Homo sapiens: one gene and its partners. The protein of the gene in region 4 interacts with the protein of the main gene of each other region in a biochemical or structural test. Each region holds a gene or a part of one and is shown on either strand. Other genes may lie near its edges.

Region 1 (7,953 bases), on a different chromosome or scaffold from region 4:
GTTCTTTCCTATTTTAGTAACCTTTTAAGATGACATGCTATACACAGATGACCATTTTAAGTTCAATTCTGTACAGCGCATCTCCATAGTTAATAATTCAACAATTTTGAGAACCAGGTTCAGAGACATAATCTCTATCCTTCAAGACTTTGCACTTTCGCTTATGGCTATTTTTAGACCCTTATTTTCTGCCACTTTCCAACTCTTCTGCTGGCAATATCAAATATTTTGGAATTTCCAAAACATACTATATCAGATTTTTTTTTTTTTTTTTTTTTTTTTTTGCAAATGCAGTGCCCCCTGAAGAGTCATTTCCTTTAAATCTCCCCTGCAAGGACAGCTGCTTTCATACGCCCTTCAAGTCCAGCTAGACATCCCCCCTCACTGTCCCCCACCCTGCTTGGCTACATCTGAATCTTACTTCTGACTTTCTGTCTGCTGAACCATATTGCATTTGTCCCTGTTCACAGCCTTCCAGAGCTTTGCTGGCCTCTGATTCTAAAGTACTTTGTCCAGTGTCCAGAATTTTGCATTCAGACATTGTACTGGTAACCTCAGACTTCAATATTTTCCTATTAGTTACTGTAAATATAGACTTGACCTAGAAATAGAAGTCCTAATACTGCCTTTTATCAAGGAAACTTAAAACATTTGAAAAACAACAATGAGGCTTTCATTTTTCTGATTTGAAAATATGGCTTCAGGATCCCAATTTCATAAAAGCTACAACTGTCCTATAATAAATCCAAATTTCCCGAGGGAAAATTTTACAATGTATGTTTTAAACAAAACAACTTGAATGTTTTAGTATATAAATAATACTATTTTTCTATCCATGGCTATTATAAAATGTATAGAAAATATCCCTATTACAAATTTGTTATGGAATCAGACTGTTTAAAACTAATGTTGAGTTGATGATGATTAGTAGCCGATTATAATGTAAGACACTTATGAAGTTGTTTTTCTTGCTGAAACCAGAAGAAAGTAAAGGTCGTGAACTGGAAAGAGATTAAATAATTGAAATGAAGTCTACAATGGCAGCATTTCTTTTAATGTTCCTAAGTAAACCTAAAAGGTGACTGGAAATCACTAGTTACGTTACACTAGTTATGTTACCCTACAACTTGAGTACCTGGGTAAGGGAGAGAATATTCTCTTAGAATCACTCTTGATATAGATATAGGTTTGTTTACAGAGACTTCCTACCCTCTGTTCTATATTAGATAACATTATTAGTATTTTTTAAATAAGCCTGATTTCAGTAGCCTTTTTATGAAAAAACTGCCACAATCAAAAATAAGAATGTACCCATAGTTTTATTAAGAAGTTATAAATACATAATTCCTTGTCTTTAAGATATCTGTGTTGAAAGCAAAAGTTCTAATTAATACTGTATGAATTTTTGTATATAAAGTAGAATTGATGAGGAAGTTTAAAATATCCTGATATTTGGGATTAGAAAGTAAAATATTTAGGAAATTATTTAAATTCATATTTCTTGACATTATTGCATTCATTCCAGCATTGAGTTTTCTAATAAAAGTAAGATAAATAGCAATTCTTAATTATCATGCTGTCCTTTAAAGCTTATTTTGGCTATCTTCCAGCTGATTTTAATGTACAGCATGCTATAATTAAATAATAGCTAAAGTTGGAATTGGTTCTATTCATCTTAAAGACTAATCATGTTTAATTATTTTAAATTGCATATAGTAATTAGATTTCAGAAACCATGATTTTGTAATATGCCTGTACTGTTTCTAACATTTTCTATTTTAAGTCATTTATAATATTTTTAAAGGTCTCAGTTATGTCTAACTACATGGATAGCATAATGAAATGAGTTGCACTTGTATTTTATAAAGAAGACTTGTGATATATGATTGCATTAGATAATTTTCTGGAAGTTCCTCAAACTAACAATTTAATTATGGATATGCCTGTTAAATCCTAAACTGCCACTGTCACGTGGAAAAATACAGATAAATATGTTTTCAAAATATGTTTTTCTGTATTATTTCTGAAAAACTCAAGACATGGACATGCAGTTAAAAGGAAACACTTCTGCAACTGTTGAGTTCTGAGTATTGGCAAATAAGAACTCACGTTTCAGCTTAAGTTCAATTAAGATGATATTTGCTGAATAAATGACGGGGAACCAGCAAAGACGGGTTTTTACTTTGGTGTTTGCAGCATAACAGATCCATATGGAACTCCACCACACTTCACTGCACCTTGGTCTTCAAAACGGAAATATACTAGTTTACCAAGTAGGAATTTTGGCCAAAAAAGCAGTGGTTTCCTCTTCCCTATACAGGTGAGGTAGACATAAATTCAGCATTAAATTCTGTACCTTAGAGAAGCATTATTTGAGCAAAAATTCAGAAAGCTTTCACTTTCCTGAATCCAATCAAGGGTCTTACTTTCAAAGATTTTCCCACCTCAAAAAAACAAAAACACAATAAAAAAGAAAGAAAACAAAAAGGCCTGGTAATGTTCTCATTATATTTTCTAATTTCTCTTTATATATTCATATTATAATTTAGGGAAACTTATTTTTAACAAAGAACATTATCTGAAAGTTTCGGTGATATTTTGTTTTTTTCTGTTCATTTATACGGTTGCCTACTTATTAAATTTTTGATTTTTTAAATTTAATCAGAAATTCAGTTTTTCTCTCTTCCCTCTGAGATGTTTTCCCAGTGGTTAAAGTAAATTACAAGTCTTATAATGAATTATATCCTCTGCTTTGAATGGGAGAGTTCATCCAATCCATTGTTAGAAATAGTTCTTCTTTTCAGGTTCCTTGTCCTAGTACATTTTTTCTGGAATAGTTGAATTTGAGGACAGGGGCAACATAAACCCGTCAGGCTCCAAATCTTCTGATGTTCTATTCAATTCAGCATCCCTCAGAGACTAATATAGCTGCAAGGATTAGCCGCAAGGAGTCCAACAAACTATAGCAAAAACAGGATTCTAGGCCGGGCGCGGTGGCTCACGCCTGTAATCCCAGCACTTTGGGAGGCCGAGGCGGGCGGATCACGAGGTCAGGAGATCGAGACCATCCCGGCTAAAACGGTGAAACCCCGTCTCTACTAAAAAATACAAAAAATTAGCCGGGCGTAGTGGCGGGCGCCTGTAGTCCCAGCTACTCGGGAGGCTGAGGCAGGAGAATGGCGTGAACCCGGGAGGAGGAGCTTGCAGTGAGCCGAGATCCCGCCACTGCACTCCAGCCTGGGCGACAGAGCGAGACTCCGTCTCAAAAAAAAAAAAAAAAAAAAAAAAAAAAAAAAAAAAAAATAGGATTCTAGCCAAGAGCTGTGCCACTCGTGAAGATCCTCTAAGAGTACAAGCATGGGATGCCATGAAGAATGGCAAGTGTTTTAAATGCACAGAAAGAAAAACATATTCAAATGAGATTTTGGCTATGTTGGAGAAAATTTATTAGTATAAATATTCATTCTAGTCTCCTCTAAACAGAAGTCCCTGTACTTACTTCTCGCTGAGGACAGCCAGCTTCTCAGAGGCACTGAGTCCTCTGAAGAGGTAACACCACAGAGGCAGCAGCCTGGCTGGTGGAAATGTGCTTCATTAAGCCTTCGGCTGCATGGAGAATCCTCTTCCACCTATTGAGAGGAGTCAGCGACTTCTGCCTCACTGGGTCTTTTTAATACCAGATATTTATACTTCATACAGGTTGCCTACACTTTATGCTACTAAACAACAAAAGTTTAAGAGAGCAACGCTTGGCTGCTTAAAAATGAGCCTTTTTGGTAGATTATCAAGATGCCTTCACACCCAATTATTTCAGTTCTCTGTGCTAAAGTTAACGAGGGAAAGGAGATTAGATAACAATAACCTCAGCTGTTGTTGTGCTATAACTGTGTCATCTGGTGAAGGGTTTGAGCACTTTCCAAAACGCGTGCATTTAACCCGTCAGACGTATTCTTGCACTATAGTAAATACTACATATTTTAGTTTGCTCAATATCTCAAAATCTAGGTTTCAAAATTTTTATAGCATAGTATTACTAGTAGTTAAGATGAAAATTGTATAACTGCTTGGTTGCTCTGCTACAGTGTGAATAGACCGGTGTTGTTGGATGGACCTAGAGCGCCAGGCTTAAACCAGTTTACGCAAAGGGAGGTCAGGAGAGTGGTGAATGGCAAGAGAATGGAAAAAGGTACAGGTTACTTCTGCAGAATAAAAGTTACAGGGAAAACTTGACTCGCTTTAGAATGGCAGCCGGAACAGAGAGGCCCTCAGCAAACAGGTCAACATACTGCATATTCAGTCAGTATTTGCTGAATGAATGAACGGCTTACAGCAATCAGATCTTCCCCGGTGTTGTGCTAATGCCAACACATGATTAGAAAGTGCTCTTTGAATCTACAGATAAAGTGACAATTCAGACATTTTTCTGATTTTTTAAAAATCAGAAAACAAAGGAGAAGAAAAAACACATGAAAATTTAAAAAGGCTATTATTAAACATATATATATATATAGTCTTCCTGGTGAGAAGCATTATACTTTAACAATTATATAAGACAGAAATATTACCAGAAGCATAGATAAAGCTCAAATGCAACACATCATATGGTGAATAATTCAGAAGATAAGAAAAACTGATTTCTAATCTCAATTTTTTTAAAGCCTCTTGGTACAGTCACATTCATCAAGAAATATAATCAACCTAAAGAGTTAAAATTTTCTTTTGTAAAATAAAAAAGAATAAGAAAGAAAAGTTTAAATCCAGAGTTATAAAATTGAAGATCTTCATTTTAAGGCTTTAGAATATAGTTGAACAGAGAGTTCAAGACAGAAAGAGGTATCAGTCTGGGAAGACCTTTTCAAGTTAAAAAAAACCATAGAAGCTGCAAGACCTTACACAGTCAATCAAAATATCTGCTTCTGATTTAACTCAAGAAAACAATAGAAACCTATTAACTAGTATTCAGTCAACTACGCAAAAGATTATTCAAAAAATGTTCAATTTGTTCACTCCAAAAGATATTGATAATAATAATAATTTATATAGATTTCACTCTGTACTTGCTACCATCCCAAGAGTTTTATGCATATTAACTTTTAATGAAAAATCTGGAAAATCACAAAATCTATAAGTATAATACCAAATACTAAAAAGTAGGGACTTTTAAGGACGTTTACATTGGAATTTCTCAGAAACATTTTCTGCAATCTTAAATTATTTCCCAAAGAGGGATTTAACATTGAATCGCTTTGTCTTAGATGCGCCGATACCACTTTACATGTTGTATTATTTTTATATCATGTTAATGAAGTGTTTTGACGTGTCCAGTCTTTCCATGTGAAAGTGACCTCCACGAGAGAGCAGTCTTGTTTACGTGTTTTTACCCACCATCTTGCCATGTCCACTACCAAGAGTGAACGAAGGATGGCTGAGTAACTAGGCCAAGTCGGTTATTGTAACAAATAAAATTCACACCCAAGGAAAGGGACCTGCTGAAAGCAAGGTAACCTGCGTGTGGTTCCATGTGACTTTCATCAGGAGAAAACTGATCTGGTCTACATATCTTTAAATGTTTGTTTTGTTATGGGTTTTTTGTTTGTTTGTTTTTGGTCAGTATGCTTTTTGGGTAAAACACTAAGCTAAGTATCAAAGCAATCCTTTTTAAGTCATCGAGACTTTTTCAACGGAGGAAACATGACGCAACCAAAAATGATTTGGCTCATTTAAACCACTTGTAGAATTTTTCCTCCGAATTTAACCTTCTGAGCAACTTAACTACATATGAGTTATGTCTGACAGTTAAGAAAATAATAAAAATATGAGAAGGCACACTTATCTTCTTTGTCAGAGAAACCATATCTGTTTTGGGAGAAGGGCTGTCTTAGGGCAGTAACTCAGATGACTGATAATATATCCTGAATTCTTTCACACTCACTTTATTTAGAAACATAACTTTTTATATGATATGTGTTCTGAAATCCGATTATATCACTCACTGACTTCCTTTCCACCATAGATTTAATTTTACAGGACTAATATAACTCATTTATATAATGATTAATATGGCTTTTTTAATTAAAAAAATCTTCCTTCTAAAGTGTGCCAAGGATTTTGACTACATTTTCAATTAATTTTTAGATTTATTGGCAGAAGAGCAGAATTACCATCACCCTTATGTTGTAAAAGTAAATGACAATCAAAGCCATAAATAATATAGTTTAGTTTGAAAAACCACCTTCCTGTTGACCCGAAGTCCCAAATGTCCTGTCAGTGCTTTATATTGACGGTTATCTGGTAAAATGATTGGATCTATGTATTATTATGTGGCATAATATTACATCATAATGATTTCGAACCCTAAGCTTGTGCTTCCTTTGAAGATCGAATTAGGAAAACATACCCTTAAAACGGTGCCTCACTTTTTTTTGGCTCTGGTATTTAATTTTGCAACTGTCAGGAACAAAGAGATTATGATCAGAAAATTATGTTTCCTGGGGAATGTTCTGTTAATGAATTGCCTCATTCCCAGGCTCCTCAGTCATGGTATTGCATTCTGCCTTTAGCCCAGCCTGTGAGAAGAGGTGCTGGGTTTGCATGGTGCAGAAAAGGCCTGAGAGGAGGAGAGAACAGGAGCGTAAGGATAGGACCCAGAAGGACTCTGGCCCTCTAAGTATTTGTTACCAATGGGATCACTGAACCACTAGAGCTTTTGAGTTCAGTAGGAATTAGGAAAAGTGTTGCCTTGAAATTTAAATGTTTCTGCTTCCAACCAAAAGCAAAGCATTGGAGAAATCTGCATGCACTCTCGCTAACCCCTCAGAGAGTGAAAGAGTATTTTATCTGGTCAACAAAACAGAATGGCCTCTTGTTGATTGACATGGAGAAATATCACCCGTTTAAAGGTCAGATTATTAATTTGTCAGTGCATTCTCTTGGGAAATAAAATCAGAATTTCATCTGGCAAGTGTCATGACAGGTGACACATGATTTTTAAGACTATCACCAAAAAACTATATCTGCCCAATATACAGATCAGTACCATGAGTTCCTAAGTGCCAAGTGGCCCACAGTATCTGGAGTTTCCCCTCCTGGTAGATGGGCTTGAGCAGGCAATGATGAGTTCTCTGCTCTCCTCTTCCAGACCTTGAAGACTGTTGTCCCATTTGTTAGTATGTTAGTGTAAGTTAGCTGATTGTATTCTTTCTAATTTGTTTGGTATTGAAAAGATGGCCTTGATAGGGAACGTGGAGAGCGAGAAAGACCTAAGTTCTGGGTACAACTTAACAAGTGGTCAGACCCAACTGTGGATGTCGAAGTTGTAACTGTATATTAAAAAAATCATACTTGCATTTTCATATAATTTACTCATTCATTTATTATACATCCATCAAGGACCGGAGGAAAAGATGAGAGAATAAGCCAGGAAGCCATTGAAAGAGCTTACAATTTAGTGCAGGAAGACAGGAACGCTAGTTACTGTAATTTAAGATAGAAGGTGATGGAGTGCTATAAGGCAGATATAATCAATGCATTTATTTATTCCTTCAAAAGACATGCGCAGAAGTAACTTATACAATAAAGAAACTCTTTGATCGTCTTAAGCAATGGAGTTCCAGAAGATGATAATAAATTGCTCAGAGAATTGAAGTTTGTTAGAGGATCGGGAAAGATGGATTAGAGAAAATGGTATTTTAATTGGGGCTCGAACAAGGTGGGATTTTGACAATAGTGTGGAAAAGCAAGCTTTGTAGCATCAAGAATTGTTTTATACCACTCACATGTATTTGGCACCCCCTCAGTGCTTTCATGTAAATTGTTGAGTCTGGCTCAACAGCCCTGGGAGGTATGCACTATCATCACTGTTTCACATGAGAAAAGAAGAAACTGAGGCTCAGGGAAGTGCTCATTGGGTTTTACCTGTTACGAGTCAGTGGCCAACTTTGAGATGAACTTTTT
Region 2 (7,953 bases), on a different chromosome or scaffold from region 4:
ATGTGCATAGTTTATAAAATGTTTGCTGTTGTATCCATAAATCCCCTGTGGACAACGTTCCTTTTCGTACTCCGCTGTACACGTGTGCAGTGAATGTTTAGCAAATACATAATTTGGTATAAATCCCATACAATGTGATTTCACAACCAGAAGCCTGACTGCTGAGATATTACTGAATTTTTTAAAGTGATAAACAAGATTATTATGTGCAAACAAACAGGGCCTGTGCTCCAGCTGCGTCCAAATTTACTTGACAAAGCTATAAACACAAGGCCCTTTCTGAAGTCCTGCTGATTGAGTTTCCCCTTCCTTTTGTCGGTGGAGAGGAATGTAAAGGCTAAGCGGGTGCACTCGGACTGTGTGCCTCTGGGCTTGCTGGCGGTGGCACTTAAAGGAACTCATTCATTCTCTGGATGGGGCAACACTCCTCACCCGGGATCCCCCAAGGGCTTTCCCACACGGAGACCTTCCCGAACACAGAGACATCTGATCTTGGCTTGCCCAAGCTGGCCCAGGCCTCGGGGACTCAGGAGCCTGTGGAATGTGCTGAGAGCCTGAGGTCTCTGGCGGGGAAAGGGCAGGGGTCACAGCCCCCCTCCTGCCCTACCTCAAGTGCTTCCCAGCGGAGGGCCTCTAGTGTAATTCCATCTGAGACCTGGGGATGGCAGGAAGGCCCGGCCCTGCTTTGTTTGACCCAGCTCAGAACAGGATCCTGCACCCCTGCTCCTGCAAACTGATGGGGGAGGCCAGAGGAGGCCGCTCCCAGCCTGATACCACTGTCTTCCCTGGGGCTGTAAAATCAGCAGTTGGGGGATGGGGTATTCAGAGAACTCTGCTCCAGAGAACCAGAGAACCCTGGAGCCACCGCCAGGCGAGTAACTTCTCAGCACTTCTTAGCAGCAAGGAGTTCAGGGGAGAACTCCATCTGTCTTCTAGGTCCTTGGAGAACTAGAGGCCGATGGCAGAGGGGTCAGGCTGCAGCCCCGGGCCAGCCAGCTCTGATGTGTGACAGTCATTCCACAGGAATTACCTTCTCTTGCGAGTGCAAGCCTCCAGCCGGCCCAGCTCCTCGTAGGACTGGTAGAAAATGTCGAACTCCCTGGCGCCCCAGCCCCTCCAGACGGCCAGGCACCACTCTGTGTTTTCATTTTCAAAGGTGCACACAACAGTGTCCTTTGCCACCACGGCAGCATCCACCAGCACCCTGCAGAGAGAAGGGGGTCTGAGGAAACTCACAGGGGTTCCCACTCGGGTGGGGTTGGGACCCTCCCCCTGTGCCTTCTGAGGAAGGCGGAGCTGGCTAAGGGCAGGGGAGTGTGTCTGCTTGCCAGCCCTCTCTGGGGTGTGCTGAGATGCACCACTTCTCCCCAGTGGCCAGCCTGTGGGCTTAGGCTTTATAAAGTCCAAAGACGGGCTGTGGGCATGAGTTCGCGTCCATGGGCTTTGTCTGTAAGAGTCAGACTCCCTGGAAGGCCACAGAGGCAATCAGATCATGCATCCTTGACTCAGCTCCCAAAGCGTCCAGAAAACACCACTGACCCAAATTTCTGCTTGTGAATGGCTCATGACCGAGTTTAACTCAACTCCCTTGCCACTAAGCTCAGTAAGATTCTTCTCTCATTCTGTTTCTACAGGCTTAGGAAATACAGGATCATATATTAAATGGAAAACCTACTGCCCCAAAGTCATCACTATATACATTTTTTGAAACTGTGGACAGTTTTGCAGGATCGGTGGGTGTGTGCTACAGGTTTCCTTTTGGGCCACAGTGTGGCCTCCCTGCCCTGGTGGTGCCCCACCCCAAGCACATACTAATTGCCTTTCCTCCCTCTGTGTCCCGTGTGTGCGGCCTGCGTGGCACTGAGGTGCTCCTGCAAACTGGGATGTCCAGGGACCTCTCACTCCGCGTGGCCTTGCCAGGACCTCCCCTTAGGGGAGGAGCCTCCCTCTAGCGAGAAAGAGGTAAAATCTGGCTTTAGGGATGAATAGGAGAAAAACAACAGCTAAACGTTAGGACATTAATGGCAGGTATGCCAAGGTCCTAACCTGGGTGCTGCACACCCATTTCCTCCAGAAGCCCGACCTGCAAGCTGGGAACTCCATCAGTTCAAGGCTTCTACCCACAGGCTCTGCCAGAGCTCAGGAGCAGATCCAGATCTTGCTTCCAGAACCACTTACAGAGTAAGGGTCACTGGCCCAGGACTCACTGCAAAAGTTCAAAGCTGGCAGGCAAGGGAGTGCGACTGCCAAGGATGTCCTTGTCATTGTCCTGCTTTGGGAGAAGCAAGCTGACTGGTGTTTCTCCACCCTCTTATGCTCCAGATGAAATAAAAACCCACTTGCCCAGGGATGGGGGATAACTCATGCTGCAGGGAAACAGGCCTAGTGTGAAATGGAAGAGCTCCAAAGTACACACACACACACACACACACACACACACACACACACACACATTTGAACTGAGGACTTTTCGTAGGGGAGATTTACCGTGTGGGGCTCGGTAGTCAAAGTGCGGGGTGTAAACACTGTGGGGAGCTGCAGCTGGCGCCAGCCTCACATCACTGCAACCATGTAGACCATGTCCCGGACAGGCCACCCTGCCCAGCATACCTTCACAGAGGAGACTGGCATAATCCTGGGGGTCCCCACCCACAGACAGGTACTGAGCTATGTCTCAGCCCAGGAAGGGCAGGAGCTGAGACCCCAGGCTTGGAGATGACAAGGTGTGCCTGTGTCATCTGTCCCCATAGGGTGCTGTGTGGGCTGGTGGACACCTCGGGTAGGGTTTCCTGCTTGGCAGGAAGAACAGTGAATCAATGACCTGGATGCATCTGCATGTCGATTGCAGCTGAACTCTGGCCCTGGAGACATTCGTTAGGTAGGGTACTAGGTAGGGTACTTGATCTACAGGTGCACTGGGTACTCCAGAAACAGGCAGCCATGGCCAGTGCGGAGCCCCTAGGAGCTGTCTGAGGGGCCCCATCTTGTTTCCACTTTGCCTTACAGCCACGTTAGTGGCTATGCTATTTGGGAGAATGGAAGGGCAGCAAAGCCACTGTGCAGGACCTGGCTGCAGGGCCTTCTGTGCTCATGCTGCTGCCTGGGTCCTAAAGGAGCTGCCACTCAGTCTTACCCATGCGGAGTCAGCTCTCGGGCTTTTAAGACGGCAATGACTCGGCCCCGCTGGGCGCCAGAATCCTTCTCCAGGCCAATGACGATAACATCTCCACCGCGCCTAAGCAACCAAAACCCAGAAGGGGAAGCGATTTGTCGGTAGCCGTGCTCTCCGGGGAGTGAAGCCGGTGTGCAGAAAGGTGCGGGAGGGAGGCAACAGACATGCAGTTTCTGCTAAGGGATTAAGTTATGGGGAGGGGACAGACTTCAAAGCAGAGGAGAATTTTCTCAGTGGAAACTGAGTCACAGTTGACTGTGGCTTTCCTTGTGTGGCACCTTAAGCTCTCTGGCAGGCAATAAGCTTTTGTGCGGCCACTCTTAGATTTGCTAAAGCGATCGCTTCCATTCCCAATGGAGGAAACCAACCCTCTTGGAAGAACAGCACCTGCCTCCCCACATGACCTGTAAGGAAGCCAGGGGGCTTCCCCTTGCTCTGTCCCCAGAGCAGGAGCAGTGGGCGTGCCCTGGATGGTGCCCTCACCTCGGGAAACGTACCTGGGGACCCAAATGAGGTCTCTGACGGCGAGGATCTTCACGGCCTGCAGGTGCTGGCTGAAGGTCTCCCCGTCCATGGGGGTCAGGTCATGCTCAGACCTGTCGGAGGCAGCACCGGGCGTATGTAGCATGTCTGAGTCCTCGCAGTCGGTGGAGAAAGGCACACTGGAAGAACTTGCTGGGGAGCTGGGGAGGCTTGAGGGGGACCTGGCAGCCTGGCGGGGTGGGGATGAGGAGTAGGAGGACATGGAGCAGTAGTCAGTGAGTGATTCCTGGTGGATCAGGATCTGCGTGCCCAGCTCCTCACTGTACATGATGCTCACGTCCGCGATGGAGTCCCCCTCAGGCACCTTTGGGTTGGCCGTGTGGCTGGCTGCCGGGGGTTCCGTGTCCAAGGGCCGCACGGGAAACATGTCCCTGAGGGGGCTGGGGACCCCGCAGAAGTACCGGGCACACAGCTGGTAGGTGGTGGAGTGGTACATCACCAAGGAGTTGGCCTTGTCATCCAGGCACCAGACGACCTCCTCCCCTCTGCCCTCAGAGCTGCACACGACTGACGTAACCATGGAGGGGGCCATGTAGGGCTCCAGCCGCCTGCAGATCTCCAGGGAGGCACAGTCGATGACAAGGAGGCCCGGCCCATTGCTGTACCAGACCTCAGAGCCGCTGTTGACCACCTCCATGGCCTTCACTGGGTAGGGGTTCTGCCGTGCGTCTTCATCCGCGATGCTGAACTTGGACCTGTTGGCTGTGTGTGAGCACAGGTAGGAGCAGCTGTCCTTTGGGGTGCCCCGCACCACGGGAAACACAGCCACAAGCCCATCGGCGAGGCCCGCTAAGACCAGGTAGGAATTCTGAAGGAAGGAGACAGGGATGTGTCACATCCTTCCATTTCACACATTCCAAGAGAGACACAGAGTAGGCACTGGACTCATCTGCACCCACACCAGGCGGGCAGTCACTTTCCACCAGTGCGCCTCAGGGCAGCAAATCTCTTAGAAAGGCCGGGGCTACTCCTAAAGAAGTGCAGCTCTGACTCCGCAGAGCCATATCTACCATCCCTGCAGCAAAGAAAGGAATGTGCCACCCAGAGGCAGGGCCTGTGGCACCAAGTAAGGCTGCGTGTCACCTGGACCACATGGGCTGCCTCTGCTTCTGCCAGCTTCTTGCAGGGCGAGCAGCAGGGAGCTGCCTTCTCCTTGAGGCCACCAAGGCCTCCTTCAGAGGCAGGACCTGGTGCCCCCGCCCTTTTCTCGGTGCTGCTTAACATGACAGCAGTGGGGGCATGGCAAGCATCTGTGCACTGCCCCCTGCCTGCCACCCCCCCCACCAGGCAGAGTGTTCCATAAGGATGGGCTCCCAGCCCACCAGCATCCCCGTGGCACTAGCCTGGCACAGGGAAGGGCTCAGTCTCCTTCATCTTGGTGGCCCTGTGACTCCACCTGGCTCCTGCTCCAAGTGGATGACATGTGTTTGCTGAACTAATTCTGGAAGAAATCGCTTCCTACTCAACCCTCTTCTGGAGGCCTGTCTCAGCCTGCTGAGCCCTCATCCCAGCTTACATCTATCGAGATGCCTGTGGTTCAGCTGACGTTGACAGGGTCCTCAGGGTGCCCCCCACCCCCTCAATGAAGCATGAGCTCTTCTACACCCGCCAGAGGTCACCGGGCAGAGGCCAAAGTTGCAGGGACCTTGCTGAATGCTGGGCCCACCCCAGACCGCCCCGGGGCACCTCCCAGGGCAGAGCCAGGAACAGAGTGCAGCTCCGCAGCCTAGACACCGCGTCGGCTGTGGTGGGGGTGGGAAGAGGTCTGCAGAACAAAGCTGGAGTCAGGGCAGAGCAGGGAGCTGGGCCTCATGCCAGTGAGGGGGCAGGGCAGAAAGCCTCCTTGTGGGGAGCTGGGGGAGCTCAGGAGGCTGGCTGTGCAGGGCAATGGAGTGGAGACCCGTAGCTCACTGTCCAGGACAACATGCTCTAAGAAAGCGTATCGAAATCCATCCCCAGGACTTTAGGGAAAGAAGGCAGCCAAGGCAAACAGGCTCCAGGTCTCTATCTGCAGTCCTGGCTCAGGCCCCGGCCAGGGCGGTGAGTGCCACGTCCCGGCTGGGTGTGAACGTGGGTGCGCGTGCAAGAATGCAGGCTTCGCGCTGGCGGCCTTGGAGGGGGCAGACACCCTGCCCAGGAGGCCCTGCACAGAGCAGGCTTTATTCCCTCTGGTCGTGCAGGAGGTGGTGCCCTGGCTGGGGGCTCTCGCCAGCGGTGGCCTCAATAACACTTTGTGTCGTGTTCTCCTGCGCTCTGGTACGGGCCTGGTCCCAAGCTGCGTAGCCTCGCTGTGGGGCCATGGTCATAAATGACTCTAAGGTTCATTTCATACCTGTTTTTTTTTTTTTTAAATGAAACTGAAGAAGGGTGAAGAGAAGAGTTCATGTATTTTGCGACCATCCAGAAGTAATAATAATACTCATTTACCAAGCACACCGGCCTAGACCTTTGGGTATGCTAGGCCTTCTGTCTCTTCTTATACCTGTTTTGTAGATGGGCAAACTGGAATTGGATGATGACAGTCACATTTTAACAAAGCAACACCAGTAAAGGCTTCTTGTGCATTTAGTGAGGGCGCCTATGCACAGACAGGCCCCTCAGGGTGGATGAAACCAGAGCTGGCTGAGCCGTGCCTGAATCCTGTGGGCGGAGGAGCCCGGAAAAGCCAGGGAGCTGCCCCCCACTGAGGGGCAGCTTCTCAAAGGAGGGGACAAGGCCCCGGGTCTTGAGAACTGAATCGGAGGCCGTCTGGGAAGAGGTGCGTGGAGGGGCTGTTCCTGGAGGAGGCTGGGATGTCAAGGGCCCAGCACAGAGTGGGGTGCTTTGTGGGGAGGGTGCCGGGCCCAGCAGGGACTGGAGGCCAGCCTCATAGAGGCTGGGGCTAATCCCAAGGTGCAGCACAGCTGGCTGGGCCTTTAATGGGGAGAGTGCCCCTTGGGGTCTCATTTAGAAAGGCCAGGGCTAGGAGGTTAAAGAGCTGAGTCTGCAGGGCTATGCTGCACAAAGAGAAACTGCGTCTGGTGTAAGACGGCGAGTACTTGGCGGGAGGCAGAGATGGAGGGAGGGAGATCAGGACCTCCAGGACCTGGTGATCAAGTGGCTGTGAGGTGGCTCTGGCCTGGGCAGGTGGGGAAGAGGCTCCGGATAGGGGAAGGGCACACGCATGACTGCTCACCGTGCCATTTGTACCAACAGTCCTTCCACCTGAGTCAGGGCATTTGCATGTGAAAGGGGGTTTTTCATTCGGCCTGCAGTCTGGCTGGGGACTTGACTTAGGTTTTTGCAAACCGGAAGGCACTAATGACGGACCAGGTCTGATATCTTTCCTCCCACCGTCTCTAAGTCTACGTCCTAGGCCAGGTGGTCCTAGGTGTGGCTCTGCAGGCGCCACCCTGACATAGCTAGGAGACGCCTCCTAGGCGTGGAAGTGCATCAGAGACCTGCATACCTGCCTTTGCCCCGACCTCACCTTTTTAATAACAGGCACGGCCAAGAAGCAGGTGACGACAGCTGGAGTATCCAAGGCCTGTTGGGGTGTGTTTAAGGGGCACATGCCCTTGAGGGTGTAGATGTAGATTTTCTGGTCCTGCAGAGGCAGACAGGTCCACTGTGAGACCCAGGCTGGAAAGTGTCTGGCATTTCCCAAGCCATTCCCATGAGGATGCACTTGGACTTGGGGATCCCCTATGGGTCTTGGAAAGTTACATGGATTGACACGTTCTGGTGGGTTGTTTATGGATTTCTGCTCTTTGTAGAAACGTTGAAAAAGACAGACTAGTCTAAAGAGGAAACAGAAAATAGCCCGTCATCTATTCCCCAGAGAAAACCAACATTGGGATCTGGGGGCACAGCCTCTCAGAAGTTCTCTGTGGTATTTGTGTGTGCACCTGGTACTGGCAAAGTGGACTCACGCCGCAATGCTGTCTTCTCACTGTTCTTCCCATGTGAGACAGCATGCTTTAGGCAGAGCCCTTGCTTTCCTCACTCTAGGAGGAAATGTTCACTGTTCTTCCCATGCAACAGCACGCTTTAGGCAGAGCCCTTGCTCTCGCCCATTCTAGGAGGAAATGTTGTGGGAGCATCTCTTGGATGCCTGGGACTGGGCTGCACCTACTTCGGCTAATCTGTTGTCAGATGTTTCTTAACACTGAGATTTCTGAGGCTTAAGTGGTACGCAAGGCTGGAGTGCAATGGTGCGATCTTGGCTCATTGCAACCTCCACCTCCTGGGTTCAACCG
Region 3 (7,953 bases), on a different chromosome or scaffold from region 4:
AACAAAACAAAACAAAACAAAAAACTATTAGAGATCCGTACATATGTGTTTTGCCCAATTTATGACAAAAATGACAATACAGTACACCTTCATTTCCTGCTCCATCAACCGCAGACTGTATCCCTTAACTTCCTACTTTGTAAAAATGAGGACATTTGCCCTTCAATCTTTTCTCTCTCCATGGCTACTTCCCCACCTCTATCAGCTGTACCTTTTCTTTCATATTGTCTGGCTGAGAACATTCACATTCTATTTTGTAATTACAGATAAGTGTTCTGTAATAGCACTATGGGTTGATTCTAAAATTGAAAAGTAAGTGCATTCACAAATATGCAAAAATAAAGCAACACACTCCTAAATAAGCAACAAGTCAAAGAAGAAATGACAAGGGAAATCAGAAAATGTTTTTGCAATGAATGAAAACGAAGATATACCAAAACGTATGGGCTCCAAGAAAAGCAGTGCTTAGAGAGAAATTCATAGCTATAAACAGCTATATTAGAAAAGAAGGCTGGGTGTGGTGAATCACACCTGTAATCCCAGCACTTTGGGAGGCTGAGGTGGGAGGACTGCTGGAAGCCAGGAGTTTGAGACCAGCCTGAGTAACAAAGCAGCACCCTGGCTCTAAAAATGTTTTAAAATTAGCAGGGTGGCTGGGTGTGGTGGCTCACCTCTGTAATCTCAGAACTTTGGGAGGCTGAGGTGGGCAGATCACAAGGTCAGGAGTTCAAGACCAGCCTGACCAACATGGTGAAACTTCCTCTCTACTAAAAATACAAAAATTAGCCGGGCGTGGTGGCACGCGCCTGTAGTCCCAGCTACTCGGGAGGCTGAGGTGGAAGAATCACTTGAATCTGGGAGGCGGAGGTTGCAGTGAGCTGAATTTGCACCACTGCACTCCAGCCTGAGAGACACAGCGAGATTCCATCTCAAAAAAAAAAAAAAAAATTAGTAGGGCATGGCTGGGCATGGTGGCTCATGCCTGAATCCCAGCACTTTGGTAGGGTGAGGTGGGCAGATCACGAAGTCAGGAGTTCAAGACCAGCCTGCCCAATATGGTGAAACCCCATTTCTACTAAAAATACAAAAAATAGCTGGGCGTGGTGGCGTGCGCCTGTAGTCCCAACTACTCAGGAGGCTGAAACAGGAGAACTGCTTGAACCCGGGCGGCGGAGGTTGCAGTGAGCCGAGATCACACCACCGCACTCCAGCCTGGGCAAGAGAGTGAGACTGCATCAGAAAAAAAAAAAAAAAAGGCCTGGCGCGGTGGCTCACGACTGTAATCCCAGCACTTTGGGAGGCTGAGGCAGGCAGATCATGAGGTCAGGAGATCAAGACCATCCTGGCTAACACGGTGAAACCCTGTCTCTACTAAAAATTAGCTGGGCATGGCGGCACGTGCCTGTAATCCCAGCCACTCAGGAGGCTGAGGCAGGAGAATCGCTTGAACCCAAGAGGCAGAGGTTGCAGTGAGCAGAGATCACGCCACTGCACTCCAGCCTGGGCACAGAGGGAGACTCCGTCTCAAAAATAAAATAAAATAAAATAAATAGCAGGGCATGGTGGGGCGTGCCTGTGGTCCTAGTTACCTGGGAGGCTGAGGCAGAAGGTTTGTTTGAGCCAGGAGTTGGAGGCTGCAGTGAGCTATGATCACACCACTGCACTCCAACGTAAGTGACAGAACAAGACTCTGCCTCTAAAAATAAAAAAGATAAATCATAACCTAACCTTCCAAAGAAAAGCAAACAAAACAAAGCAAGCAGAAAGATGGAAATAATACAGGTTAGGGTAGAAACTATTAAGTAGAGGGCAGAATAATAGAGAAAAATCAATGAAACCAAAAGCTGGTTCTTTGAAAATATCAACAAAATTGACAAACTTTTAGCTGCATTGCCCGAGAAAAAAAGAGAAAAGACTCAAATTACTAAAATCAAGAATGAAAGAGGGGACATTACTACTGACTTTATGTAAATAAAAAGTAGTATAAGGAAACCCTGTGAGCATCTCTATGTCAACAAGTTAGGTAACTTAGATGAAATAAGCAAATTCTTAGAAAGATAAACTACCAAAACTCACTCAAGAAGAAAATCTAAATAGACCCATAGAAAGTAAAAAGATTAAACTTTCATAATGTTTAAATTTCCCATGAAGAAAAAAAATCAACAAATAGCTGAAAAATCAATGAAAGTTTATTCTCTAAACTTTTCTATATACTTAATATTTCATTTAAAAATTCATTGCACGGCCAGGTGCAGTGGCTCACGCCTGTAATCCCAGCACTTTGGGATACTGAGATGGGCGGATTACCTGAGGCCAGGATTTTGAGACCAGCCTGGCCAATTCATATACTCACTGTCATTTCAGTGCAACAAACATGTACTAGACACTTACTTCGTATGAAACATAGTCCCAGGGACTCTGAAGGATATGGAGAAAAAGAAGAGCTGATTCCTGCCTCCACAGAGCTTATAACTTAATCAGAAAGATAAACTATACAAAATAACTATAGTACAAGTAGATGTGATGGGTAATATGAGAAGTACTAACAAGCCATGGGAGCTCAAGGAATATAGACTACTTCCTTTGGTGAAAAACAGGAGAATGTATTAGCAAAGACAAAACTGGTAGAAATGGTCAGGCTAGTGGCATGTGCCTATAGTCCCAGCTACTCAGCAGGCTGAGAATTCCTTGAGCCCAGGAGTTTGAAGCTGAAGCTGCAGTGAGCTTTGATCATGCCACTGCACTCCAGCCTGGGCAACAGAGTGAGACTTTTCTTTTTTTTCTTTAAAAAAAAAAAAAAAAGGTGGGCACAGTGGCTAGTGCCTGTAATTTCAGCACTTTGGGAGGCTGAGGTGGGCAGATTGCTTGAGGCCAGGAGTTTGAGACCAGCCTGGGCAACATGGTGAAACCCCGTCTCAACTGAAAATACAAAAATTAGCCACGTGTGGTGGTGGGAGCCTGTAATCCCAGCTACTTGGGAGGCTGAGGCACGACAATCACTTGAACCCGGAAGGCAGAGGTTGCAGTGAGCAGAGCCAAAATTGCACCATTGTGCTCCAGCCTGGGTGACACAGCGACACTCTGCCTCAAAAAAAAACAGAAAACAAACAATACAATCATAATCTTTACTGGCCAGAAACAAAGAACATAAAATATTGAAAAGTAAAGACACGTAAGTCTATACCATATTGCATCTCAAATCATGTATTCTAGGTTTGCATTGTTGTGTTCATAGAAACAGAGAAGTGACTTGATTTCTGAAACCAAGATCTCGCAAGGCAAAAAGAAAAGATCCTGTCAGCATTTGTTCATTCACAAAAACTGATACCCAAAAAGCGAAAACAGAAAGACTTTAGGGACCCCTACTGGCTTAGTCAATATGACAATCTTTTAACAAAAATACTGTTAGGGACTCAGAACCCTTATTTCCAATTAAGCAACCACTTCAGCAAATATTCATTTGAGTAATCCAATAAATTTATCTAACGCTAACAGTAATCGATACGTGAAAATACAATTTTATAAATAAATATTTGCGGTGGGGCGCGGTGGCTCACACCTGTAATCCCAGCACTTTAGGAGGCTGAGGTGGGCAGATCACAAGGTCAGGAGATCGAGACCATCCTGGCCAACGTGGTGAAACCCTGTCTCTAATAAAAATACAAAAATTAGCTGGGTGTGGTGGCACATACCTGTAGTCCCAACTACTCGGGAGGCTGAGGCAGGAGAATCACTTGAACCTGAGAGGCGGAGGGTGCAGTAGACCAAGATCACGCTATTGCACTCCAGCCTGGCAACAGAGCGAGACTCCGTCTCAAAAAAAAAAAAAAAAAAAAAAAAAATCTGCTTTATACTACATAAAACTTCAAGGGTAAAGGCAATAAAACTGTGTAACTATATAAACACTGAAGAAATAGGTTCATAAAACAAAATGTAACCATGGGGAAGTATGTATGTTAAAGAACTATATGAAGCTAGAAAAATAAATAGGCCAGGCACAGTAGCTCACACCTATAATCCAGCACTTTGGGAGGCTGAGGTAGGTGAATCGCCTGAGCTCAGGAGTTCGAGACTACCCCGGCATGGTGGCATGTGCCTGTAGTGTAGTCCCAGCTACTTGGGAGGCTGAGGTGAGAGGATCGCTTGAGCTTGGGAGGTGAAGGTTGCAGTGAGCTGAGATGGCACCACTGCACTCCACCCTGTGTGACAGAGCGAGAACCCGTCTCCAAAAAAAAAAAAAAAGAAAGAAAAAAAAAAGAAAAGAAAAGAAAAGAAGAAAAGAAACAGGTAACAGTCACCCCTGGAAAGGATAATGAGATGACCGAAGAATAAGAGATAGAAGGAAGAAGTCTTTCACTACATTCCCTTTTGTACTATTCCCACTAATGCCTCCCTAGGTTAAGTAAGCAGTACTTACCAGAATTTTATCAGCTTTGGCTTCACTAATTCCCTTAATATTTATTAGCTCCTTCTTTGGCGCATAGGCAACAGCCTCCACAGTATGGAATCCAGCTTCTTCCAATTTCTTCACATCGTTGGCATTTATGCCACACTGCTGCAAATGAAGAAAACCATGGATAAATTTAAGCTTTAGTTCTCTAATCTAACACAGATGTTATGTGTCCTACATACTTCACAGAGGTGCTTGAAGACTTGTAATACAACTGTCCCTTGAAATCCTTGGGGGGGCGGGGGGAGATGGGAAGTTGGTTCCAGGACCCCCAGCAGATAACAAAATCCAACAATGCTCAAGTCCCTTATATAAAATGGCGTATTACCTGCATATAACCTATGTACATCCTCCTGTATACTTTTTTTTGATATGTAGTTGATTGAATTTTTGATACGTAGTTTGTTGAATTTGCTGATACAGAATCCGGAGATACAGAGAGCCTACTGTTATTATATGCAAAAGCTGAAAAATGAGCCCTATATATGAGGTACTTAATAACAAATTAACAACCTTTTCATTATCAAAATCAATAATTTTAAACTAGCACTAAGCCATGTACATTAAAAAGAACTCCTATTAGCAATTGGAATTAAAAAGTAACTCCCAACCTTTTTTTGTGACCCTAAATGATCTCTGAGACCTTGGGCCCTACAAGACCACTTTAAGACAGTGTTGCTCAACACTTTCCACATCAAGCACACATAAAAAACTGTATTTTTACACTATGGTAGGGTAAATAGATAAGGCTGCTCAGAATATAAAGAGCACTATCTTGGCCTGTCAATACTTTTTGTTGAACAATGACCAGAAAGCTCTGCTCTAACAACTGACATTAACAGTGAGGAAAACTACTTTTTGTCAGGGACTTTTATACCTCTTCTCAAAACAAACCACCCAAAGACACCTCTTTCTTCCTATATTCAAGTCAGCTTTGGTTTCATTAGCCACCAAAACCATGACTTCTGGGAAAACATGAGTTAGTAGGTGAATGTGGGTGCATTCAGGGGTTGGGAGAATTTAGAAGAGGGGAGAGATTAGTTTGCCAACATAAGCCATGTCTGCTATTAATATTTAAGCAATATGCATGTTTGAGTATAAGGATGCTCATGGCACCAGAAGTTATGACTCTGAACTTTCAAATGTTTATCACAAATCCATTTAAGTAACTTCTAGAGTCTTTTTTTTTTATTAGCCTTTTGCACTCCTAACTTCTAGAGTCTTGAAGATTAGTCAGAGATGGGAAATATGAAAAAAAGAGACAGAAGAATCAAGTCTTTCTCTGCTTTCCTCCTACTTAGCCCAAATCAGCTGCACTCACAGGGCAGTCTCTATACAATGGGCAGAAATAGTGTAAGGCCTCAGCTCTGGTGCTTAATGTTCTTGTGCAGAATCCTGAATTGGAGCTTGTCTCTTATACCATAACACCACCACACCCTTCTCTCTGCCAATGACAGCTGACAGCACAAATCTAGGTTAATGGAGAGAAGGTGCTTCCCTGTCTTCCTTGCATAACTGGTCCAGGCCGCTATAATTCCCAGAACAGCACTTTCATACTTAGTGCAAATAGCACAGGATGCTTTGGCCAGGCATGGTGGCTCATGCCTGTAATCCTAGCAGTTTGGGACGCCAAGGCAGGTGGACTGCTTGAGGCCAGGAGTTCAAGATCAACATGGTCAACACAGTTAAGACCCATTTCTTAAAAAACAAACAAAAAAACAGCACAGGCTGGGCGCAGTGGCCCATGCCTGTAATCCCAGCACTTTGGGAGGCCAAAGAGGGTGGATCACCTGAGGTCAGGAGTTCGAGACTAGCCTGACCAACATGGAGAAACCCTGTCTCTACTAAAAATATAAAATTAGCTGGGTGTGGTGGCTCATGCCTGTAATTCCAGCTACTTGGGAGGCTGAGGCAGGAGAATCGCTTGAACCTGGGACGCAGAGGTTGCGGTGAGCCGAGATCACGCCATTGCACTCCAGCCTGGGCAACAAGAGCGAAACTCCATCAAAAACAAACAAACAAACAAACAAAAACAGCACAGAGATTCCACCATGGGATCCTAGGCCTTAGTTTCTGACAGTCCAACTCTCAGAAATAAAAATGATAAAGTAGGAAGAGAATTGTTGACAAAGGAAGAGGCCCTGCCAGACATATTTAGCAATGATCTGCAGCCTTTCCACAGGATTATTGACAACACTTCTGAAAAGTCTAATTTGGGTCTTGACCTTGGTAGTAAACCTATATTTTATGTAAAGGTTGTAATACCTTCCACTAGGTAGAAGAATCTAGTATATAATTCCAAAATTAGCAACTAACCACATACCTCTAACCGTGAAATGGGTTGTGGGCCAAAGCTTTCTTCTTCCACTGAAGTATCTGCATTTGCTTCAAGCTGCATCTGCATTGCCATTACTGAAAAATACAAATGCTTATCAGTATAAACACTAGAGAAATAAGGTGCATCTCTCTCCCCATCTTCTATCTAGCTAGTCGTATCAAAAAGACTTTAGGAAAAGCCAAGGCCATTCTCTTATTGTGCCTCTCTGTTCTCCTGCTTTATATTCCTTCAGTGTAGGGGCCAAGTTTTACTTATTTTTATATACCCCATTATACATTATAAATGTGTTTGCAGACAAATACTGCATGATCTCACTCATATGTAGAATCTAAAAAAGTTGATCTTGGCGGGGCGCGGTGGCTCATGCCTGTGATCCCAGCACTTTGGGAGGCCGAGGCGGGCAGATCACCAGGTCAGGAGATCAAGACCATCCCGGCCAACATGCGAAACCCCGTCCCTACTAAAAATACAAATATTAGCAGGGTGTGGTGGCACACGCCTGTAGTCCCAGCTACTCGGGAGGCTGAGGCAGGTAAATGGCTTCAACCCGGAAGACAGAGATCGCAGTGAGCCGAGATCGTGCCACTGTACTCCAGCCTCATGACAGAGTGAGACTGTGTCTCAAAAAAAAAAACAAAAAAAAAAAAGTTCATCTCATACAAGGAACAAATAGAACAGTGGTAACCAGAGACTGAGGAGAATGCAGCTGTTGCAGGGGGCGGCAGGAAGGAGAGAGGTTGGTCAACAGGCACAAAGTTTCAGTTAGATAGGAGGAATAAGTTCTAGGGTTCTATTTCACAGTAGGGTGACTACAGTAAACACTAATGTAATGTATACTTCAAAATAGCCAGAAGCGAGTATTTTGAATGTTCTCATCACAAAGAGAAATGACAAGTGTTTAAGTGAACTGATGGATATGCTGATTACCCTGATTTGATCATTCATTATACAATGTATATATGTATTGAAATATCATCTTGGGCCAGGTGGAGTGGCTCACGCCTGTAATCCCAGCACTTTGGGAGGCCAAGGCGGGTGGATCACCAGGTCAGGAGATCGAGACCATCCTGGCTAACATGGTGAAACCCTGTCTCTACTAAAAAATACAAAAAATTAGCTGGGCGTGGTGGCAGGCTGAGACAGGAGAATGGCGTGAACCCAGGAG
Region 4 (7,953 bases):
GCACCCAGGCCGCAGAGGCCCTGGGCAGCTGGGGGCAACCTGCCACCGTTCTGCTCTGTAAGACCTGATGCCGGGCCCCAGCCCCGTCGGGAAACCAGAACCCACTACATCCCGGCCCCGCCACCGCACAGGCTCAGAACAACAGGGCAGGATCACAGGCCGAAGCAATCTGCCAAGAATTCTAATGTAAACACTGATTTATTTAAAAAATACTACAGAGGACAGATTTGGATTCAAAAAAAACCACAGAGAATCATATACAGAAACAAAATGCACTGGACCCCGAGAAGCAGAGGGGGAGCCACCACAGGCCCCCGAGGGGGCAGGGCAGGACGCTATGCACACGCCACTTAGAAAAGAGCGTCTATAAAAGATGCATACCAAGAGATACGTGTAAAATATAGTGGCACATCACGTTAACAAAAGGAAGGGACCAGTACCTCATGGAGACAGGCAGTCGGGGGACCTGGGTGGGCGCTTTGCTCTGTCTTCAAGGCCGCTGTCGGTGACTAGTGCCTCCCTCCGGCTGCGTCACAGCCGTCGGGGGCAAAGAGGTGATGTGCTGTAAGAACCGCATAAAACGATCCAGAGGAAACCATTTCTATCAGAAAAATAAAGTACAAGTTTAGGTGATGAGCGTAAAGCTAGGGCCTGTGCGAGGCTGCTGGCACGAGGCGGTATGAAGGGGTGGGAAGGTGGCTTCTCCCGGCGTGAAGCCTCAGGGGCGGCCACCTGCCCACTGCTCTCGGAGTTAGCTGCTCTGTCAAGGTCCAGGAGACCCCGGGTCCCTGCCCAGAGTCACAGCCCCCGTATCTGGGCTCCGGCCTGGGGCAGCCTCGGGGAGAAGATGGCAGGCGTGCTCTGTGAAATACGTGAGGCTTTCAGGGGCTCCGTTTGTGGTTTTCCTAACCCTCCCTGATGACCCCCACAGAACATGAGGCTATGTCACTCACGGTAATTAAATAAGACATTCGCCCAGTTCAAGAGTGCAGCCAGGACCAGGACTGGCCAGGCCCTTTCCTCCCACCTGTGCGCAGGTGCCCAGTGGCAGCTCTATTCTCTCTCAGGGCGGCTACACAGAGGCAGGGCTTTGAAATGCTTCAAGAACTCAGAAAAGTGAAGGCTGTCTTGTTCCAAAGGAAAGGGCCTTGTAAGAATCTACTTTGTCTTAGAGGAGTGGGGGAGGGGAAGGGCCCTTTCAGGGCACCCAGATGTGTGAAAGGACGGTTCACTCTGGGCCCTTGCAGACCTGCCTGGGCCCAGTCTGGGGCTATTTGGCACCAGCTGTTCACCCCACTAGCCACTGCCTCCCTTGTCCCCTGCCTCCATTCTGCTGGGGGAGGGATGTCGGCAGTGACAGTGACCTGCCACCCTTGAGACTCAAGCTTTCTTGCCAGGATTCACAGTGCACGTCACAAGAGAGCAAGAGCTGGGCTCTGGGGATGTGGACAGATGGAAAGGACATGCCCCATGCCTCGATCCTTTTCAGCTCCCACCTGCCCAGGACCCAAAGGCTGGTTGGCTTTAGCACCCTGTTTTCCACCCAAATCAAGAGCTGTCCTGCACGTGAGGAAATGGCGAGTGCACCCCACCCCGGGCAGCAGCAGAGGGCAGAGTGACCAGCCGTGTGCATGCCCGTGCATGCCCTTCCCGAAATGCGGTTCTTGAAACATGTCTTCAGCACACGACGGGCAAGGCCAGGGAGTGCAGGCAGAGGGCCTGACACACAAGGCCTCAGTTCAGGCTTCCATTCTTGGAGAAGTGGAAGAAGGAGGCCCAGCCGGGGGAGGAGGGGCTCCAGAGAGAAAAAAATGAAAAAGACAGTCCACATCAGCCGTTCCCACCTGGCCTGGAGAGCTCAGTCTGGGGCACTAGGTGGGAGCGGGGCTGGCGGGTCCTGGCATGCCGACTGCAGTCCACGGAGCAGGAACTCCACAGATAAAATTCGAGGACAGAGACGGAGCGGGGAGGAGGAAGGTGCGGGAGGGCAGGCGGTGCAAACGTAGGTAGTAGAGCTGGACTCCACAGGGCCCTCAGCTCTGCCTGGCGCAGAGCTCCTGGGCCAAGGTGCTGACTCACTAGTCCCTTGTCAGCCACTGTCACGGGTATGGGCGAGCCCGCATGTGCTGCAGGCAGCTCCGACGGGCCTGACACCTGACCCCTGACTGCTGCTACCTCTGCACTATGTCACTGATTTCCTTCACCGAACTGAGGAGCTTGCTGAAGTCCTGAGTGGCCGCTGGACCACTGCCTGCTGTCGCCGGGCAGATCTGAAGCTCCCGGAGATTATTCTCCAGTTTGTTGATGGCCTCTCGGAAGGCAAACTTGTTCCTCATTTGCTGGATGGAATCCACATAGCTCACGCAGAACGTGTAGAGGTTTTTGCCGGCCTCCAGCACTGCGCTGTGGCTGGCCATCTGCTCGGAGTTCCTAGAGATGGCGAGGCACAGCGCCTCGGTGCTGTCCAGGACCACGCCCTTGGTGATGGCGCCGCTGGCGATCCGCTCTGGAGGCTGGCGGGTTTTCCGAAGAGACACTCGGGTTGATATGAGAGGGATGAAGGCGGTGGAAGACGGCTGGTCCCCTGCCAGGGCCGAGGATGCTGATGGCAACGTGGAGGGAACGGGGGCTGGGCTGATGGGGGTCCCCGACGGCTTGGCGGACTGTGGCTTTGGAGTGGCCGGGAGCACGGGCTTTTTGAGGCCCTCTCCCGGCTGGCTGGGCTTGGCAGCGTCACTGTTCACAGCATCAACCAGACTCGTGGCTTTTGTCTTTGCGCCCAGGACTGCCTCCCCGGCCGCCTCCTGGCTCGGGCTCTGCGAGGGCTTTCCTCCAGCCTTCCCTGCAGAGGCTGCTGGTGGGGGCGGCGGGGCAGGTTTGAGCCTGGACAATTTCCCCTTGTCCCTCCCTGGCGACTCAGAGGAGTGCTTGTGCCTCCTCACTCTGGACTCCTCGGCGGGGCCCTTGCTGGTGCCCCCTGGTGCACCTGAGCCTGCTTTGCTGGTGGGGGTCACTGGCTCAGCTGCAGCAGGGGTCCCTAAGGCACTGCCCTTTCCAGCTTCTTCCTTGTGGGGGAGGCCCGAGGCAGGGGCCACGGTGACCTGCCGCCGGAGGGGTTTTGGAGTCAGGTTGGGCGGGCTGGAGCCCGGGCTGGACTCCATGATGTCTTTGAAGACCTCATCAGCAGCTTCCTCATTCTTTTTCACCAGCCTGGGGGGAGGCGTTACTGTGCCTCGGGTCACCTGGTCAGACCTGTTCTCCCCTGCCCTCTTCCGAGGCAGAGCCGGCTTCTCACTTTTGTGCCCTCCAAATGTGGACGAGTCAAACTGTCTTCCCGTGGACTGCAAGTCCCGAGGCAGCGTGACTGACCTCCACTCCGTGTCCTTGGCCCCATGGGGAACGCAGGAGGCGGAGCAAGAGCGCAGGAAGCGCTTGCTGGAGCTGCCACCGCCCTCCTCCTCGCCGGTGGCTAGGCGGCTGCTGGTCAGCGTGCTGGACTTCTTCCACAGGTGGGGAGACCGGAAGCCTGAGCCCCCGGACTCCCGGAGGGCTCCATTGGGGACCCCAGCCCCATTGCTGGGCTTTGGGGACTTGGCTGGGTCAGCTGTGTCCAAGGGGGTGAAAGCCAGTGCCCCGTTGCTGATGTCTCGGCCCTCTTCCTCGCCGGCCCCTCTGCGCTCCGGCTGGCCGTCCATCTCCCGGAAGGAGCTGCTGCGTTTGGGAGGGGTTGGGGCTGTCTTCTTCTTCTTCTTGATCAAGGCGCTGAACAAGTTGGTCTTTTTGTCTTTGGGGAGAAGGCGCTCATCTTCATTCAGGCCGCCCTCCGGGGGACCTCGCTCTTTTCGAGGGAGCAATGGAGACACGGCAGGCTCATGGTCCAGAGGATCTGAAACGCAAGGGGAAGAGCTGACAACTCCAGACAACTCTAGAGGCTGACAGAGGAGAATCGCTTGAACCCGGGAGGCAGAGTGCCACTGCTGCACTCCAGCCCAGGAGACAGAGTGAGACTCCATCTCAAAACAAACAAACAAACAAACAAAAAAATTGTCAAAGGTCATCCCTTCTTATCTCCTGTGCATAATGGCCCATTGTCCCTTCCCCACTGTGGGACACAGCCCCTTATTCCCAGAGCTCCTCATAGGCCTCTCGGCTAGCTGGCTGGCAGGAGAGCCACAGGTTTTGACCCTTTGCTTGGCCTTGTCATCGTTTTTATACTCACTAGAGAGTGATGTGGGTGGGTGGGGGGCTGCTGCCTTCAAGTAAACCAGTGCAGGGATGAAGAGGCCAGGGCCGTCCAGCTTTTTGTTCCCATCTTCAGGGAAAGAGACCAAAGCGTGTGTGTGGTTTTTTTTTTTTTTTGAGTTGGAGTCTCGCTTGTTGCCTACGCTGGAGTGCAGTGGCACGATCTCAGCTCACTGCAACCTCCGCCTCCCAGGTTCAAATGGTTCTCTTGCCTCAGCCTCCCAAGTAGCTAGGACTATAGGCACCCGCTACCACGCCTGGCTAATTTTGTATTTTTAGTAGAGACGGGGTTTCACCATGTTGGTTAGGCTGGTCTCAAACTCCTGACCTCAGGTGATCCACCCGCCTTGGCCTCCCAAAGTGCTGGGATTACAGGCATGAGCCACTGCACCCGGCCCAAAGCCTTTCCTAATGACAATCCTAACAGCAATGATGGCTTTATTGAGAGAAGCGTGACACGTGCTTCACCTTTACAACCTCATCTGCATTCTCACAACAGTGCTGTAGCCCGGCTGGGACTTGCCTGGCCTCAGGGATGGTGGCATCAGAGCCGGTTATCAGATCCAGGCCTGTCTGAGCCCAGACGCTTGGGTGCTCCTCTGGGGAGCATGGGGTGGGGGCAGCCCCCAGCTTGTGCCACGGGAGCCTGACCTTGTGATTCGCTGACCTCGGCCTCCTAAAGTGCTGGGATTACAGGTGTGAGCCACCACGCCCGGCCAACAGTTTTTTAATGGGCACTCTTTAAATATGAATCATAGCTCATAAGAAATCTTTCTGGTAGCCAGGCGCGGTGGCTCAAGCCTGTCATCCCAGCACTTTGGGAGGCTGAGGTGGGCGGATCATGAGGTCAAGAGATAGAGACCATCCTGGCCAACATGATGAAACCCCGTCTCTACTAAAAAATGCAAAAATTAGCTGGGTGTGGTGGCACACGCCTGTAGTCCCAGCTACTCAGGAGGATGAGGCAGGAGAATCGCTTGAACCCAGGAGGTGGAGGTTGCAGTGAGCTGGTATCATGCCATTGCACTCCAGCCTGGCAACAGAGTGAGACTCCATCTCAAAAAAAAAAGGAAATCTTTTTGGTGTTGCCAAGCTCCTGCTAGTGAGTAACAGAATTCTCCCTCAGAGGTCAGCTTGCAAGAAGAGGTTTTCTGTTGGCACCTGTAACTCAACAGAGGTACCAGTATGCATTTATCAGAACCCAAGGCAGCACGCGGGACATCTGAATCAGGGAACACCAAAGCCCTCCCAAAACTTTAATCTAGTGGAAGGAGGCCAGGAGAGTGAAATTGCAATGAATTATGCACCACTCAGTTTCAGCACTGAGCAGTTAATTGACACCCTCGGCTCACCAAGAGATCACTATCAAAATACCCCTCAGATGAAACTGACGGGCGTAAATGAACATGACTGCTGATCACTGGGTTCTTAATAAGCACAGCGTTCCCAGAGGCCTCTCCTCCCTACTGCTCAGCCACCTGAAATCAGGAAAACCGATAAGAGGAGGAAGGGTGGAAGATTCTGGAGAGTCTATACGCCATAACCTCCAAGTAGGTGAGTGAGATGGCCCAGCGGGGCGGGAAGTATTGCAAATTTGGACTTATTTAGCATGCAAGCCTTTTAAATGTGCGTTTTGGTACATAACATACGCACTCTACTCCTACAGTAGTGGACATACGTACTTTATATACCATATATATGGGCTGCATGTTCTGTTTTTTTTTGTTTTTTTTTTACTAATGAGAGTACGTGATAAAACTCAGGTTTATAGATTCTGCTGTCAGTAAACATCCCACCATAAATCTTCAAGAAGTAGGGCTTTGTCCAGTCCCTTCACATGTACCCAGTCTGCAGTCCATTAGAATGGAGTCCACCATTGCCATCCCCAGGATCCTCTGTGAACCCAGATGCTTGGCCTACCCCCCACCTCCAATATGGGTTGGCTGAGTCCCCACCCAAATCTCACCTTGAATTGTAATAAGCCCCACGTGTCAACGGTGGGGTCAGGTGGAGATCAATGAATCATGGGGAGGTTTCTCCCACATTCTCGTGGTAGTGAATAAGTCTCACGAGATCTGATGGTTTTATAAAGCGGACTTCCCCTGCACAAGCTCTCTTGCCTGCCGCCAAGTAAGATGTGACCTTGCTCCTCATTCACCTTCAGCCATGATTGTGAGGCCTCCCCAGCCATGTGGAACTGTGAGTCAGTGAAACCTCTTTCCTTTATAAATTACCCAGTCTTGGGTATACCTTTATTAGCAGCATGAAAACAGACTAATACACCCCTCAATGCTTTTGTTCAGCTGGTCTGCAGCAGAACCTGGACTGCTGGTTCTGGGGGTCAACCATGAACATAGAACAGAGCCTGGCCTGTAGTAGGCACACTACATAAATGTTGGCCATTATTATTTTTGCTAGTGTCTTGAGACCCCCTCCTGAGCTGATCCCAACTCCCTTGCTCGCCTAGGCAATGGCACCAGAAAGATGCTCTTCCCAGAGACCACCAGGACACGGGTTCTGTCCATGTGCGTGTCCTGGTTCCACCTGGCTGCAGCGAGCTTCTCACATCAGTGCCTTCACCGTGAGCTGCTTGTCACGCAGCCTGGTGCTTACTATTGTTGAATCTGCTCTGAGACAGCAACCACAGATGCCGCGGGTAATAGGTGGGAGATGGGCTAGCTCCTTGGCGGGCTTCAGAAGCACCTCTGCCTACAGGACTGAACTCACTGCTGGAGCCTATGCTCCTCGGGGACTCTCAGAGGGAGGGGATAGGAGGCAGGTGGGGAGAGGAGAACCTTCCTCCTTCCGAAGCTGAACCATTGACAAAGGCCATGGCTGCCCTTCTGTGCGGGCTCCATTCACAGCTTCCCGTTGGCCTATGATGGCCTGAATGTAGCCTCTGGCAGGGAAGGGAAGAGCAGTGGGGTTGGGGGAAGCGGGGGACTTACCGCTCTCTCCCTGGCCCTTGGAGTGAGGCATCTCAGGCACGTCAGTGGTGTCTCTGTGCTCTGCAGCTCTCCTGGAGGTCCTCGTCTTGGTGGGCAGCTCTGGGGCCTGCAGCAAGGTACTCACAGCCCCACGGACGCCTTGTTTCCCCAGCTCCTTTTCCACTTCTAAGAATCATACAGGGACAGAAACAAAAATCCAGCAGCCATCAGTACTGGTGTTGGCTTGGTGTGGTGGTTCTCTTTCTTTGTAAGGTAACAGTGCTCATCTGCATACAACTAAAGAAAAGGCACGTGGATACCGGAGAAACAGCCCTTAGCATTTCTTAGAACTCTGCAGGGCTGCAGCAGACAAGAAAGCACAATACTCCACACCTCTGCCCAGCTTTCTGGTCTCAGGACAGGCTGGTCTGTGAACTTTCACCAGGAAGTGAACCGAATGACCCAGGCTGCAGTCCCACATGGCTGCCCTTTCACCCCACTGCAGGTACCCCGGGATGGGTACTTTACCGTCTGAGATACTGGATTCCTGGAACATTGTTTCAAAGGCTTGGTGGATTTCAGCAAAGGAGGGCCGGTCAGAGGGATTCCACTGCCAACCTGGACAGATGAAACCCAAGTCAGATCATCCATGAGATCTGGCTAGCAATACGGGGCTAGCAGTTCTCAAGGAAAAGTCTAGAATGAAAGCAACATTCCAATCCTGCTAACCATCTTTTGCTGCAACAAGTCAAAACGATGAATGTCATCATGTCCTGTTATAGAC

The links.
Region 1: the proteins of ABL1 (region 4) and SORBS2 form a complex in vitro, tested with the Homo sapiens proteins (one study listed by BioGRID).
Region 2: the proteins of ABL1 (region 4) and LRRK1 form a complex in vitro, tested with the Homo sapiens proteins (2 studies listed by BioGRID and IntAct, with this or other methods).
Region 3: the proteins of ABL1 (region 4) and RAD51 form a complex in vitro, tested with the Homo sapiens proteins (2 studies listed by BioGRID).

What each region holds. Positions count from the first base shown.
Region 1 is NC_000004.12:185,801,787-185,809,739, reverse strand, and holds part of SORBS2 (sorbin and SH3 domain-containing protein 2), read left to right. Parts: intron 1-7,953. UniProt on the Homo sapiens protein: Adapter protein that plays a role in the assembling of signaling complexes, being a link between ABL kinases and actin cytoskeleton. Can form complex with ABL1 and CBL, thus promoting ubiquitination and degradation of ABL1.
Region 2 is NC_000015.10:101,061,922-101,069,874, reverse strand, and holds part of LRRK1 (leucine-rich repeat serine/threonine-protein kinase 1), read right to left. Parts: intron 7,302-7,953; coding exon 7,185-7,301; intron 6,474-7,184; exon of another isoform or gene 4,524-6,473; coding exon 3,670-4,523; intron 3,236-3,669; coding exon 3,134-3,235; intron 1,205-3,133; coding exon 1,027-1,204; 3' UTR 1-1,026.
Region 3 is NC_000015.10:40,697,666-40,705,618, reverse strand, and holds part of RAD51 (DNA repair protein RAD51 homolog 1), read right to left. Parts: intron 6,863-7,953; coding exon of another isoform or gene 6,861-6,862; coding exon 6,774-6,860; intron 4,556-6,773; coding exon 4,418-4,555; intron 3,814-4,417; coding exon of another isoform or gene 3,693-3,813; intron 1-3,692.
Region 4 is NC_000009.12:130,879,902-130,887,854, reverse strand, and holds the end of ABL1 (tyrosine-protein kinase ABL1), read right to left. Parts: intron 7,788-7,953; coding exon 7,698-7,787; intron 7,356-7,697; coding exon 7,191-7,355; intron 3,887-7,190; coding exon 2,172-3,886; 3' UTR 180-2,171; downstream 1-179. UniProt on the Homo sapiens protein: Non-receptor tyrosine-protein kinase that plays a role in many key processes linked to cell growth and survival such as cytoskeleton remodeling in response to extracellular stimuli, cell motility and adhesion, receptor endocytosis, autophagy, DNA damage response and apoptosis.